2 separate regions of the Homo sapiens genome follow, and region 2 is linked to region 1. The links come from fine-mapping of genetic effects on gene expression. Tissue or cell type: whole blood. Region 1 holds a variant in brackets; the other region holds the start of a gene. All regions are shown on one strand. Distances are from middle to middle.

Region 1 (8,284 bases):
TTATACATGTATTTTTTTCTTTGTAATGTGACTATAAAACTGTAATACTAATTATTTCTAAAATAAGAGCTTTATTGTGTACTTGCATTGAAGACAGAAAGGAACGAGCAGAGATAACTCTAGCTGCCAAGTTCTTCAAATGAAGCTTTACTAATCACCAAGTAAATGCCTTCCTATTCATTCAGTGTTTTCCTAACTATACAACCTAATTCAAACAAAATCTACCCAAACTTGCAAAAGGTCAACAAAAATAAGAAGAAAAATAATTGGCTATGGCCTTCGTGATAAGTGCCTTCTATTTTTAATAGATTCCTAGAATACCTATTCCTTGTTCTCTAAAGCAGTAACTTGCAAACTATTTTTACAATGTCCCAAAGATATACACATTAATACATAAAATGAAATTACAATTTTATGAGTCTGATGAACTGACATTTCCTATTTTAAAAAAATGCTGTTTTTATCCCATTACGTGGCCCCCAAACGGTCAAGACACCCAGTTGAGAAATACTGATCTTTAGATCTTTCTCCAGAAAGATGATTCCTAGTATCTGTATTTTGTTTGGACAAATTATTTACTATTATGTAATAATATGGACATTTCAGAAGACATTTTAATAAAGGATAAGCTGTTATAGAATGGTGATTCCCCAGTTCCATATCACTACTAATTAACAAGTATACATTAGGACATTACTGATTTTCCCACTGTAATTCTTTCTGTTTAAAAAGAAATCATGAAAATGTTGAATGACGTAGCACGTCTTCACCAGAAAGCTTATTAAATATGTGGTCCCTTTTATATATATATATATATATATATATATATATATATATATATATATATATATATATATGTATGTATGTTTTGTTTTGAGACAGGGTCTCACTCTGTCACCCAGACTGGAGTGCAGTGGTGTGATCTCAGCTTACTGCAGCCTCCACCTCCCAGGCTCAAGCGATCTTTCCACCTCAGCCTCCAATAGAGTAGCTGGGACTATAAGTGTGTGCTACCACGCCTGGCTAATTTTTGCATTTTTTTGTAGAGACAGGGTTTCACCATGCTGCCCAGGCTGGTTTCAAACCGCTGAGCTCAAGGGATCTGCCCAACTTGCCCTCCCAAAGTGCCGGGATTACAGGCATGAGTCACTGCGCCTGGCCCTAAAATATATTTATAGCAGACATTTTCTTTTCTGAGTTAAATCTGGCCCCAGCAGTAAATCAAAGATTGCTTAATATGCTGCAGAGAGGCTGATCAGACCACTTAGTAGCGATGGGCTTAAAATCTGTGTTCTTAGCATAAGCTTTAATTGTCAGTGAACAGTCCTTATTTCTGTTCCTGCTACATCCATTGATCTTTATTGTTTCTCTTCTTTCAGAACCAGAATGGATACAAGAGCAGGGAATAAAGTTCGCTTTAAAAAGCTGCAACATTTTATTAATCAAATCACCCAATTTAAAAGTGCTTTTAGACTTTAAAAATAAGTGCTTTAGCTTATATGGCTAAAAAAAAAAAATTATCACATCCATCTCTCTATAAAATTGTAAATATGAAAAATTTCAAATATTGCTACTTGTTATCATATCTGTAGCAAGAAATGAATAGCATTAAAATTTTTGTATACACAGAGAAAATGAGTCATCCAGGAATTTATGGTGGGGAAAAAAAAAAAAACCTTTAGAAAAGCAGTATGTCAACAATGCTTCTAAGTACAGCTAAGAGCACTATACTTTAGAATGCAAAGAAAGGAAACTAAGGGAGACTTATTAAAAAAAAGGTTTATAATAGTGACAGAAAAAAGTTTAATATGCAAATAAGGCTTTAAGACATCTTTTTTAAGAACTGACAATCAGTACCTTTTTAAATTTTCCTTGTCGTTTTGCTGCAGACTGCCCCTGGGAGTTAGAACGACATTCTGTAAGAAAACATGCATAATCTACACAGGATGGAGACAGAACCTCTGTCTAATTGTCTTTCAGTTTATGTTCCACCTGTGTTACACCACTTAGAAGGCTCAGGTCTGTGATTAAGATGGCATGCTTTTAAAGAAAGCAACATTGCCACTTTCATTCCTTACATAAGAAAAAGTACTCAAATATGTTATTACTAAGAGTACATGTCAACTTCTTATTGAAAAATTTAGTAGATCAAAATCTATTGCTTATAAAAGCATTTCTTAAAATAGTAAATTTAGTTGATGGTCTAGTCTGATTAAAGGGTACCACAACAACCCCATTGCCTATGCATTCTTATAAAAAGCAACAAAGTTACTGTGAAAGTCAAAGTGAAGTGAAAGTTACCTTCCCAACTACCAAAAAACAAGAAAACGCTAAACCACTGAGAAAAGATTACATAAACAATGTGATGGAAGTTATAATGAACTCAACAGCTTTAAGTTACTGCTTTCTCCCAGGAAGGTCTCCCTTGATAAATAGCTACCATAGTTAACACCACATATTTATAATTTAATTTCACAATTGTCTCCTAAAACAATGTAACTGGGAAGTAGTAACTATTTCTGAATTGCTAAAAGCCCACTTTTACTAATAATGCTTTTCTGTTATACTCTTCACAAGTAAGCAGACTCTTCAAAGTGTCATCTGTCATCTGAACGAAAATTCACAGCTGACGCCCAATAGCTGGAGCAGCTATGCTTCCTGTGAAATGAAATCTACAAAAAAAACTACCAGGGTTTCTTAAATCAGTGCATGTATTAATTACAAACCATTAACTATTGATTTACTTCAAATTATACTAAAGTACGTATGTATAAACAGTATAAACTGAAATGAGACCCAAGAAATGTCAGGGTAGGCAACTTTCTAAGCACAAGTTTCCCCAATTATGCTTCAATGACAGTAAATAAATGGCTTTTGGTTCAATAGTGGCAAAAAATAAATATAATTCTTAAGATGTATGAGAACTACTCATTTTGATAACAGCATTTATGTAGCAGGCTTACTTAGCTCTGTAAGAAGTAATAGTACAGAGAAATGCAAAACTGTTAAGAATGACAACTTTTACTGGCATTGAGCTAAAATGATTATTATGACAAAAGGTGATAGATCTATATAAACATCATTCTCATAATAAATTTGTAATGAAAACATAGAAGGAAAAAACAAAAACAGGTAGGTACTTATAAAACTGTAACATATATGTCTAAAGTACAACAACCAGAAACATATTTCTAAAAAAAGCATCATTTTGAAATTAAAAGGCAATACCAAAAGAAACATCTCATATTTTCCTACTTAACCATGTGAAATTCCAATGAGATAGGTCTGTAGAAGTGTGAAGAAACATGTTTTAGGGTAATTGTTCTGACTACTTTTTAAAAGCACCCCAAGATAATCTGATTTATTCCTATGTCCATAATCTTATATGGACAACCAATCTTATTGGTTAAATTTCTATAACATGTTCTAATCTTAAATATCACATGTATTTAAGCCAAGTTTGATTTGTATTTACATGTTTCACAGGAAGTTCAAGTGTATTAGCCGTAGGAGGTAAGACAGGTTCAGGGCCTGAGTACTGTAGGCTTGTGAAAAAGAAGCCTAAATATTTCAAAAGTAGCATACATTTTAAAAGACAACTAAATATTAACTGACTTTCACTAGTAACCTGGGAAAAAAGGATTAAATTTTTTTCCCCAAGAGTATATCTTCTCTTTTATCCATTCTGAAATGTGGAATTAATTCTTATCTTTAAAGAAATGAAATTTTTTAATAGGTAATTTCAGTGTTTAAAAAACTAATACTTACAGCTTTCTTTCCTAGTTCAGTCTTTGACAATGTTAAGGATCCTGCAAGATAGCATCCAGGTCCTGCCCCTTTAGGTATTCTAAACAAGAGAATTCAAAGAGAAAAAAAGCAACAAAAGAGAAAGTTTCACAAAGACAAGTAAGGGGAAAAACATGAAAACAATTCCACACTGAATTCATTCCCATAGCTAAGACTTCAAAAATCAAAGGAAGAAATACTTCAGCCAAAAAAAAAATGACTACATCCTCTAAATTTAGCCTAGATGTCATAAACTGACATTAAAAGGACTACAGTGTATACGATGGGCAGTAAGTATAAGCAATGTTATCACTTACTTATCATCAGGTAAGGAAGTAACAAAGAATGGCTGGTTATATTTGGGTGGTAATGTCAAATTGCTTGATTTCTTCTTCCCTAGAAGTGCAAAACTATGATTTTCATGAATATCTAAGCTCAAGGTATTAGACAATCTATGAGAAACAATAAATGGAAGGTCTTTAAGGCGTTCCAAATCACTGATTTGCTCATGGCGAATCTGTAGTCGAATTGTATAATCTCCTTTCTCCAGTTTCAAAGAATACTGAAAAAGAAAAACAACATT[T/C]GGGAAAAGTTAAGTTTAACCAAGTCAACGGAAATCACTGAAAGAGGATAAAGTGAAAGTTACCATTCACAGACTTGTTCATAATATGTGAGGTACAGTGCAAGGAACTAACTATCCAGACGTTCATATAACACATAAAGTCCCTAGTACGCTGGTGAGCAGACAGGATCAGGGACATCAAGTGACTTGCCTAACATCACACAGAGTAAAGTATAAGAGAGCTGAAGTCAGGTCTGACTTCAAAGCCCTCATTCTTTCCAGAACGACAGAATACTCCCACACTTTTAGCAAAACTCAGTGTCTGCTTGAGAATGACAAAAGCAGTGATTTTCTAGTTCATGGGTCCCTCAGAGACATATAAGAAACACTACCAAAAAAATGAGCAAAATTGAGGCACCATAGAATATCTAGGACAAATACACACACACACACACACACACACACACACACACACACGTGTAACTTATGACTACTGGTAATCCTTATTTCCTTTTAGAGAGGGGGACTCACTATGTTGCCCAGGCTGAAGTGCAGTGGCTGTTAACTGGTGCAATCATAGTGCACCATAGCCTAGAGCTCCAGGGCTCAAGCGATCCTCCCACCTCAGCTTCCTGAGTAGACGGGATCACAGGCATGTGCCACCATGCCCAGCTGATCTTCAAATTACAACCAAAATGTCACTCCTTTATTACAGACAGGAAAAAAACAGGAAACCAATAGAGATCAAGGGATACAAATCTATTATCCACTTAACAGGTTCAAGAGGAAGAGATGCTGTATCCTGTGTCAGCCACTTTTTCTGAGATTTAAAAAGTAACCAAAATAATAGCACTGCAGTAGGCCAGTCTGTAATGAGATGTGACTGCTACTTGCTTTGAGGAAAATCGATACCATTCCTTTAACAACTAATTGAAAAAAATCTCCATAAATTATTTTCATTTGTCAACATAAAATTATACATATTACAGGAAATATCTCATTTCTTTGCAGTAATATCTAAGGGATAAAATGTCTATAAATTATGTGATTTTTCCCTTCAATAAAACAGCACAAAGCATAGTGCCTGGTATGTAGTAAGTGCTCATTACAGAGTTGTCCAACGAGGTAGTAAATTTAAAAGTACAAATGAACTGAAGACATGCGGCCACTGCTGCAGTGCTCTCTTTAGCCCCCTCAGACTTAGGATCATTTCAAGAGGCTCGCATCTCTTTGATGCATGCTTTGATGATTCTACCTTCAGATAGGTAGAATCAGTGTATAGGAAGGAGAAACACCACACACCAAAAGTTATGCTGGCCAGTGTGGGCAAGGTTCACCCTTGTCCTCCTCTAATTCAGCACAACTACATGGTGAAATAGTTGACACCATCTGTTCTTCACCGACTACAACAAACAGGCTCTCACAGTTTGCAAAAGTACTAAACACAAAGCTATAATTTTTGTTTTTTTTAAAGTATGAACATTACCATAACAAGAAACCAGGATTTTGTTAGTTCAGGAAACAGCTTCCGTTAATTCTAAAAATCACCATCAATTTTATACCTGATGTGGATAGGCATCGCCTGAACCCATCTGTCTTTTGTTCTGGTCAAAAATAATCCACAGTTGGCTGTCAAATTCAGATTCATATAATAGTTCACAAAGTAGTGGGCAGCTTGGAGTTACTTCCCCACTCTTGGGCTATTAAAAAACAAAAAAGATTACTTGGCATGATTTGCATATAATTTCTGATACAAATTTTTAATATTGTTATTGACATGAGACTTTTTCATTTAAAAAACATTAAAAATACTTGTGGTAAAAAATTTTGAAAATATAGAACACACAGTATTTTAGCACTTATAAAAGTCACTGCTCTCTTACAAACTTTTAAAAATACACACCTGGCTATGTGTATTCATTAATAAAGCAACATATACATACTTCAGGACCTCTAATTACTTTATAAAACTGAAATGTGAAAATTCACTGAAACCAATCCATTTCCCTAACATTATAACCAAACTGATGTGTGTTTCAGTAACAGTTTTATTGAAATCTCATTGATCTTACAACAATTCTTTGGTCCAGCATTTACACTGGCCTCCATTACTTTTGCCACCCATCCCACCTGGGAGCTACTCTGACCTTTCCCTGTTCCAGTGCCTTCTTCGCAGAAAGCAATCAGGCCCAGCACCATCACCAGAAGGCAGATGGTATTTCTGAGCCATCTAATCACCCCTGGGTCAGATGGCACCAATGGACAGTGATCAGTGATTTTATAAACTAAGGCTTAAGGCTAGGTCACCACTCAATTACATTTTGTGACTTTACAACTGAATGGTATTTAATTACAAATTATAATTTCCTAAAGAGTAATTCCAAATTAACTGTTAATCACTTGATTCTGTTTTTTATATATACCATATACACTGTCCTTCCATTTTTGATTCTATGAATCATAAATAAAACACAAAAGTTCATCCTAAGGGTACACTTTACTAGGCAAACACTTACTTGATGAAAGTTATATGTCAGGACCATCTCATAAAGTTGACGGTTATTTGGCAAAACATCTCTTGATCCTAAAGGTTTTGTTTTTGCACTCACTGGGCTGTAATGAGGAAACTACATAACTGGTTTGATTCAAGAGTTCATTGAATGAGACAAATAAAACCATATGCAACAAAATCTGTAACATATTGCAAAAAGTGCAGATGAACCTTCCTGAGAGCTATCCTTTTCAGTATACTCTACAATATTTTAATCACTAACTTACATAATTATTTGATTGAATCATATCAATACATACAGTTTAGATTTTGCAATAAATATGACAAAGGCAATCTTTTCATGGCAAAAACATTTTCAAATGTGAACAAACAGCTCTCAATACAACCAAATCCTAACACTAGGGTGACAACTAAAAGTGTTGCAAGACAGGTTCTGATTTGTACCCCTTGTGCAAACTGTTGACAGTACTGTGTTGTGTGCAGCACAGACCTCCCCAGACCCCTGCTGCTCACCAGATGGCAGGGGCCACACTCAGCCCTCCTCCTGGCCGAGGGAATGTTATTTCATATTTTTAGTAGTCCTCTGAAGGAAGTTGCTAATGTACAGATTTTATAAAGGAGAAAACTGACACTGAAGAGTAAGTTTTAAATATAGTTTAAAATGTCAGTGAAACATAATCTACTCTAAATTTAGCTCCAATTTTTTAGATTTAGGAAGAAAACATCAGGATGATATAAGTTGGATATATCTTCAAAAGCTGGATGTTTTAATTTTTATTGATAATTCTAGGAAGCAGTATATCTTTAGACATCACCGTGTCACTGACTATTGTCCCTAATTGGTTATTTTAATACACTTAAGACTAGGCTTCATGCCGATGAGTTAAGGTCAGATTAAACAAAAGAAACCAGGTATCTTTATAACACAGTGAGTATGTGAACACAGGTCAAGGTGCCCTGCTTTTGTAAGGGGAGCTGCTGAGGCACAAACAGCAGGCTACAGTACTTAAGTTTCTACCATTTAATAAACAGTTTCTAATGGTATTGCAGTTTCTAAAAATGACTGCATTAGGATTCACAAAATAATATCAGAGAGAATGTTAACTTGCTATTTTACAGCAAGAAATAAAAAGGTTAATGTCCACTGATCCTAACTAGTCATGACTGGGATCGGCTATCCACCATCCTTGACTTTGCTGGTCAGGTGGGACAGTGAAGCTAGAAGCTGATACTGGGGCTGCCTTGCAGAGATCTGCTGGCAAGGATAAAATTCTCACCTCTAGCATGCAGGTGGATTAAAAAAAAAAAAGGCCCTTTTTTAAGAGTGTAAGAGATCCCCCCAATCTATATTCAATATCTGTAGTTCCTAAAACATTGAATGATACCGCAGTGTTTGGACCCAGTTCTTCAAAGTTATGCAGGGA
Region 2 (7,108 bases), 51 kb after region 1:
AACACAAAGTTAATGAGTTGACTTAAAATTTCAGGAAAGGTACTGAAAATATTCTTTTAAGCAAATAAAGATTTAATAAATATTAACCAGTGACTTTTATTCTAAGAATATAATGATTAATATAAATAAGACAATCTTTGCTTTTGTAAAGGTTACTATTGGTTGGAAAGAAAAAGTAAGTAGAGAGATGATGACAAAACAGGACAACAAATAATAGAGGTCAGGCCAGTCTGGGTAACACAGTGAGACCCTGTCTCTACAAAAAAATTAAAAAATTAGCTGGGTATGGTGGCACATGCTTATGGTCCCAGCTACTGCAGTGGCTGAGGCAGGAGGCTTGCTTAAACCCAGGAGTTTGAGGCTGAAATGAGTGGTGATCCTGCCACTGTGCCACTGTACTCCAGCCTGGGTGACAGAGTGAGACCCTGTCTTTGAGGGAAAAAAAAAAAAGAGGTTAGGACACTATCTATGAAAGCATACAAAAACATGTAAAAACACAAAACCCAACTTGGGGGGAATGAGGGAAAGCTAACTGAAAGAGAGGTAATAAAATTTTAGTGAATGTAAAAATAGAGTTTTATGAAACTACTCGTAACCTCCTCAAACCTTTTTTTTCCCTCTATGAGGAAATTATATTCCTTCATTATGCCCATATATATTTTTTCCATTCAACAAAAACATTTAACATTACAAGCACATGTCATACAATTTTGATACATGCTTTCAAAGATTTTTAAGTTAACCAGGAAAAAGTTATCTAAACAGAAACACTAAAATACATATTTCAGGTGCTATTAAGGGGATCTAAGCAAATTGCTATAACAGCAAAGAGACAAAAAGCCTAAATAACTCTTAGGAGGGATTGGGCCTTACTCACCTCTGAAGCTGCAGGCCCTAACACAATGGCAAACACACATAAATACGAGGTGGTGGGGGGAGGGGGCGCGCAGAATTAAATCAGTTGATTTTCCAAAACATAATGGTGTCAAGACCCGACTGGATCTTAAAGGATGAAGCAGGAGTTTACAGATGACGGATGGTAGAAGCCTGACGGAAGATGAAACGCCACATGTAAAGGCATGTATTGGCAAAAAGACCTGAAACATCTAGGTGAGTGTAAGAATGAAATGTTCAAGGGGAGGCAAAGGATGAAAGGTGGGGATGAAGGGGCTATGGACATAAGAAATGATGAGAACTGAGGCTACATAAGGAGGCCAGAGTTGGATGGCAAATGGCCTCATATATACCATTCAATTTTTTTTTTTAATTTTTACACAAAAGCAGTTGAGATTCCAAAATGGCTTTGTTTTAAATGAGGGTATAATACAAGGTTTTTTTTTTTTTTTAAGGAATCTAACTCTAGAAATGTGAAGGATGGATCAAAGAGAAACAAGACTGGTGGAAGGGAGACCTCCTGGCTATTGCATACATATATTCTGGTCTAGTCCAAGTTCCATCTGGTCTGTGAAACCTGACCAGTCCAGCTCTTACTGGCCAATGCTGCCCCAATCCCTGCCCCATCCCCCCAATAATCCTTGTCAATCTCTGCAAGAGTGACAGTTTGCAAGACTATATCATTTAACACAAACTTAGGCACCTGGTAGGTGCCTGAATATCTGCTGAGGAAATATGAAATCACTTACGTAACTACTACTCTTCTCATGCCACCCATCCTCCACTTGATCATGCCCACAGACCTGTCACAAAAGAATTGGGCCCAAGGAAGTCACCAAAGACTGAGACAACCCACTGTGTTCTTCCACGTTTTCACTTGTGCCTCTAGTCCTTTATTCAGACCCCACCCGGCTTTCCAAACTGCCAGTTCAGCCTCATCTTCCTCCTATTTCATTCTTTCCTTCCTTTTTCTTTCTATCCATCCTCTAATCTTAATGATGTACACATATATCTACAAAATAAATCTGTTAAAGGTACAGGAAAAAAAAATCCTCACGTTTGCAAGCCACCGTACCCAATTTCTTTTAACTGGCTATGTTTAGGCCAATATCTGAGTCAAGGTTGTTAAAAGAGAAGACTTATGCTTTCATTTTATTTCAATATTTTATCATCTGAATATTTATTACATGCAAATATCTAACATATATTTACCCTCCAAATAGTTGGTGATGAAAGATCCAGCATAAACTTCTATTCACTTATGGTGGGAGCTAAATATTGAGTACACATGGACACAAAGACGGGAACAACAGATACTGGGGATCCCAAAGGGAAGGGGTGGAAATAAGACTGAAACACTACCTACTGGGTACCACGCTCACTACCTGGGTGACAGGATCAATCACACCCCAAACCTTAACATCAGGCAATACCCCCATGTAACAAACCTGTACTTCTACCTTCTGAATCTAAAATAAAAGTTGAAATTATATATACAAAAAAGAATAAATATCATTGCCAAAATAGTTTAATATTTTTCTTGAGCATTTAAAAAAGTCACATGTAATTAGCCAGTCCTCTTATAATCAATTTTCACAACAAGGCTGTGGGGTGAAAATTATTGTTACTTTAGAGAGAGTAACAGAATAATGTGAGAAACAGATCTGGAAATTCTACCAACAAATTCTACCAAGCAGCACTTCTCCAAACTTTTCTGACCCTCTTATTATCCTGACAAAAGAACCGGTGAACCACTTATCCCAGCTGTTTTCCTCCCACTCATCCTATAAAAAGTAAACACACTCCACAGCTGAATGAAAAGCATTATTACTTTGTAATAAAGCCCCAAATGAGTTGATAGCTGTCATTGTTCTAAGTCTTTAAGTTATTAATACAACGACAACTATATAACTCCAGTTACCGGGAGGGAATTCAGTACCTGATCCTCTTCTGATTCACAAAAGATGTGCTGTACTCCAGAGTGGTGCTGAAGAACACACACCAGGAATCAAGATTCCCAGGGGTTTCTAAGCAGATTCGGCCAGACTCCCCCTCGTTACTTCCAAAATGCTACCTCAATAATCAGAAAGCACGATAAAGGATCCAGAAGGGAAGGGACATTGTGGGGAGGAGGATGAGTGTTTAGTGTAGAAAGGAGGATAAGATAGCCAGGGGCTGATCAACGAGAGATCAGCATACAGTAGGATTAGTCAGGGATGCTGGGAGATGGATCTTGAATAACGGTGAAATTTTATTACTGGATTTCAGTAAAGGGTTAAAAGTACAAAAGTTAAACTTTAAAGACTTTAAACAGAATGCTTTTAACGAGAGACAACATACTTTCAAAAAAACTACCTTCTGGTATGATACCTTGAATCTACAGATTTTAAAGTTGCCTAAGGCAAAAAACTAAGTAATTTTTAAAAACCGTCGTATGTTTTCAGGTTTAAAAAAAAAAAAGTCGCATATTTTCATAAGGTCTGAGAAGCTCGCCAAAACCAAACCTAACTGAATTCTCCTTATGTAAACGAAGACTAAGCCACAAGATTCAATGACCCTAAGCAAACACGCTGCAGAAGACCGTTTAAAAATAGAATACACAAAACTACCACAGGAAACAATTCCGGAAGAGGACTGGGTTATCTTCTGGAAACCCAGCTTTCGTGCTTAAAGACAAACTATTCTTCCCCAAACCAAATCTCCCGATCCCTAAACATTAAGTTCTCACATGTCAGTTGCCTATCTGGTGTCTCCACCCCACCCCAATGATAAAAGCTGTAAAATTCTCTTTAAAAACGTCAGGCTGGGACCGGTGTCCGAGGCACGAGGGGTAGGCAGAGGAAGGCGGCGTGGAGGGAAGGAGCCTGGGGGGTCCGGCCTGGCAGCGCCGAAGCGAGAAGGAAGGGGAGTCCCTGGGGCCAAAGGGGGACCCAGGCTTCCCCAGGCAGCCGCGCCGGGCACGCTGCTTTTGTTGAGCTGGGGGGACCACGGCCCAACCTGGGGTCCGGGCCCTCGCCCGCCCAGCGACCCTGGCACTGTGCGCCGTTGAGTCCCCTTGGCGGGCGCCCGTCCCTCCCGCGCCTGGCTCTGACCTCTGCCCACCCCGGTGCTGCCCACCCCGGCCCGGACTCGGCCGCAGAGCGGGGCTTTGGCCTGCCGGGCTCCGAGACTGTGTCCCCACCCGCGTCCCCGGCCGCCCGCGCCCCCGCGCCCGGGCCCTCGGGGGCCGCCTCACCTGCATGCCCGGAGCCCCCGGGTCGACCCCCGTGTCCAGGACTGCGATGAGCACCCCCCGCCCATCATACTCCGGGTAGCGGCAGAGGAAGGAGGCGGCTCCGGTCTCCTTCTTCGGCAGGAGACCGTGAAAAGGGAAGGGCTCCTCAGTCGCAGCGGTGGCCATGGACGCAGGATGGAGGACGAGGAAGCGGCAAACTGCCAGGCTGCGCGCGGACTAGCAGCGCGAGGACACCCGTGCGGCCTCGGGCCGGAGGCGGGGGCGAGGGGCGGGGTCGGCCCGTCTTCCACCAATCCCGGCCTGCCAGGGAGCGGTGGCCAATCACGTGCTGCTACGTAAGCCAACGGCGCCGCTCTCAGGAGCTAGGCCCGAGTATTGCCCGGGCTGCAGTGAAGGGGGAGGAGTCTGAGGACATTACTGGAGGGTTCGGATCTCGAACCTGGGGCCTTGAAGAGGCCCGCGCTTGGGGTTTTTAGGCAACAGCAGGCCTCCAAGCAGAGTCCTGGTGTCCCGGACCGAATCACTCCCCGAGAGACGGGCAAGGAGATGGACCGCCAGCCAGGAATAATGGGAACCCTTCGCTTGGCAAACGATAGTTTCCAAACTTAAGGTTGTGGATGAAACTTTTTGGTGCGGCTGCTGCAGGAGCCCCAGCCCCGGGGTGCTGCTGACCCGAGGCAAGGGAGCCGGCGCACTCACGCTTAGCCGCTAAGGAGTCTGCGGTGTCGGCGAAAGCTCCGGACATGATTTTGGAAGGTCGTAGGTTAAGGGGTGTAGACTTTGGGTTCCCCTGTGTTGTTATGCCCCTTTGATGGGGGTGAGGTGGTGAGGGGGAGCAATAGGGTGGAGACAGGCAATAGTTTCAGTCAACAGGAAGTGGGTTGTTGGTCATTCCGTCGCCTTTGTAGCCAGTAACAAAGCACGAGACTGAAATGGGCCCCTCCTATCCTCTGCTGATCCTTAGCTTCCGGGATTTCTGAAAAACATCTTTTTTTTTCCTCTTACACTGAAGTTTCTGATTGCTCCTTACGGCTGTCCACTCAATTATAGAGCCATAATTTTCAGTTTTCCAGATTCACAGTGCCTGCCGTCAGTTGCTGCAAGCTGCATAGTGGTCCTCTAATGATCTTTATGTCTATGCTCATGCCAGGGTAATCTTAGCCTTTTATTGTGCCGAAGACCCCTTTGGCAATCTGGTGAGGCCTATTTCTCAAGCAGTGTTTTAAAATGCATACAATGAAATAGATAGGATTACCCAGGAAATAAATTATGTTTAAATGCAGTTATCAAAAATACTAAAGGCAATTTTGTTATATAGCAGGAGCTTTACGTGTGTGTGTATAGTTACAGGTGTACTTCTTTTGCATTAAATAACAGGAGCTAGGGCCAAGGCTAATAAACTACCATAACTTCAAAATAGTGAAGAATATAATTATTTGGAGATAGCGGTGAAAACTGCACTACGATGAACTGATTTTTATTGGTGACATAACAGCATAACTACCCTGGTTTTTGCCTACATTCATACTTGATGTGAAAAAAATTAAGAGGTTTGTATCTTTTTTCTACGGAAGTTTTTGAACCCCTTGGATTCTGTCTATGGACACCAAGTTAAGAATACCTGGTATAAAGGAAAGCCTTATGCATGCGGTTTCCAACCCACAGAATTTCAGAGATCCTCCATTAAGTCTCAAAAATTATTCTTATGGCTGTGCAATGGTTTCAGCTGATTCCTTGATCATTTATTCAGTCCATAAGTCTTACACAAGCATGTTCTCTTTAGTGCAGAGGAAAAAGAAAAGTTGAATGTTTTTCTTCTTATTCCCAACTGTTTACATTACCTCTAGAAAAGAATTTCAAATTAACACAGACGAAAACAGAATAACAAACTCGCAGAAGACATTCAGTATAGAGCTTATAGTGATAGAACAGAATGGCTCCCAGTTTCAAGTGAACCATAGTCCAATCACTTCATTTTATAGATGAAGAAACAAAGTTAACTGACTGTCATGGATTACAAAACAGGTTGATGAAAACACGGGATTTGTCTTCTCACAATCTCTCCCCAGTATGTTCTACCACACCATGTGCATGACTTTGCCAGAGTATCACCCAATGAATAAATGGGGAATGAACAGTTTATTATGAAACCTAGGTGGCAGACTTTTTATTAGACTGCCGTAACAATGTTCTTTAGATTTTTCTTTTCCTTTCCTTTTCTTTTTCTTTTTTGACACAGAGTCTCACTCTGTGGCCCAGGCTGGAGTGCAATGTCACAATCTCGGGTAACTGTAACCTCCGCCTCCCGGGTTCAAGCAGTTCTCCTGCCTCAGCCTCCCGAGTAGCTGGGATTACAGGTGCATGCCACCACACCTGGCTAGTTTTTGTATTTTTAGTAGAGACGGGGTTTCGCCATGTTGGCCAGGCTGGTCTTGAACTCCTGACCTTAGGGGATCCACCCACCTCGGCCTCCCAAGGTGCTCAGATTACAGGCATCAGCCACTGCACCCGGCCAGATTTTTCTTTTTTTGCTTACATATCCCATAAACATGTTTTTAAAAAAGTTATGTATCCCTTTGTACAGCTGTAAAATGAAGTCTAAATTTGTCACAATTTTTTTTTTTTTTTTTGAGATGGAGTTTTGCTCTTCTTGCCCAGGCTGGAGTGCAATGGCGGGATCTCGGCTCACTGCAACCTCCACCTCCCGGGGTTCAAGTGATTCTCCTGCCTCAGCCTCCCAAGTAGCTGGGATTACAGGCATGTGCCACCACACCCAGCTAATGTTTGTATTTTTTTAAATAGATACGGGGTTTCTCCATGTTGATGTCAGACTGGTCTCGAACTCCCGACCTCAGGTGATCCACCCGCCTCGGCCCCCCAAAGTGCTGGCATTACAAGCGTGAATCACTGCGCCCGGCCTATCATAAATTTTAAAAATTATAAAGGATGTAATTTCTGGCATAGTATAAATATCGTCAT

The links. PIP is the estimated chance that this variant, and not a neighbour inherited with it, causes the effect.
Region 2: it holds the start of TPP2, and the variant in region 1 is fine-mapped to the expression of TPP2 in whole blood (TOPMed, PIP above 0.99).

The regions. Positions count from the first base shown.
Region 1 is chr13:102,644,971-102,653,254 of GRCh38, reverse strand. TPP2 (tripeptidyl peptidase 2) reads right to left here. Exons shown (of 30, transcript NM_001330588.2): 19 at 8,246-8,284; 20 at 6,865-6,961; 21 at 5,911-6,048; 22 at 4,104-4,348; 23 at 3,769-3,847; 24 at 1,858-1,896. Among named protein-coding and RNA genes, the nearest start is that of METTL21C, 46 kb to the left of the region's middle. The variant T/C (reference allele first, on the strand shown) is at 4,370.
Region 2 is chr13:102,594,225-102,601,332 of GRCh38, reverse strand. It overlaps TPP2 (tripeptidyl peptidase 2), which reads right to left and starts at 4,347. Exons shown (of 30, transcript NM_001330588.2): 1 at 4,130-4,347. The coding sequence starts at 4,294. LOC107984588 (a long non-coding RNA gene) reads left to right here and starts at 4,391. Exons shown (of 2, transcript XR_001749984.3): 1 at 4,391-4,885; 2 at 6,932-7,108. RefSeq lists silencers at 3,834-4,123, 4,284-4,573 and enhancers at 4,644-4,703, 4,754-4,913.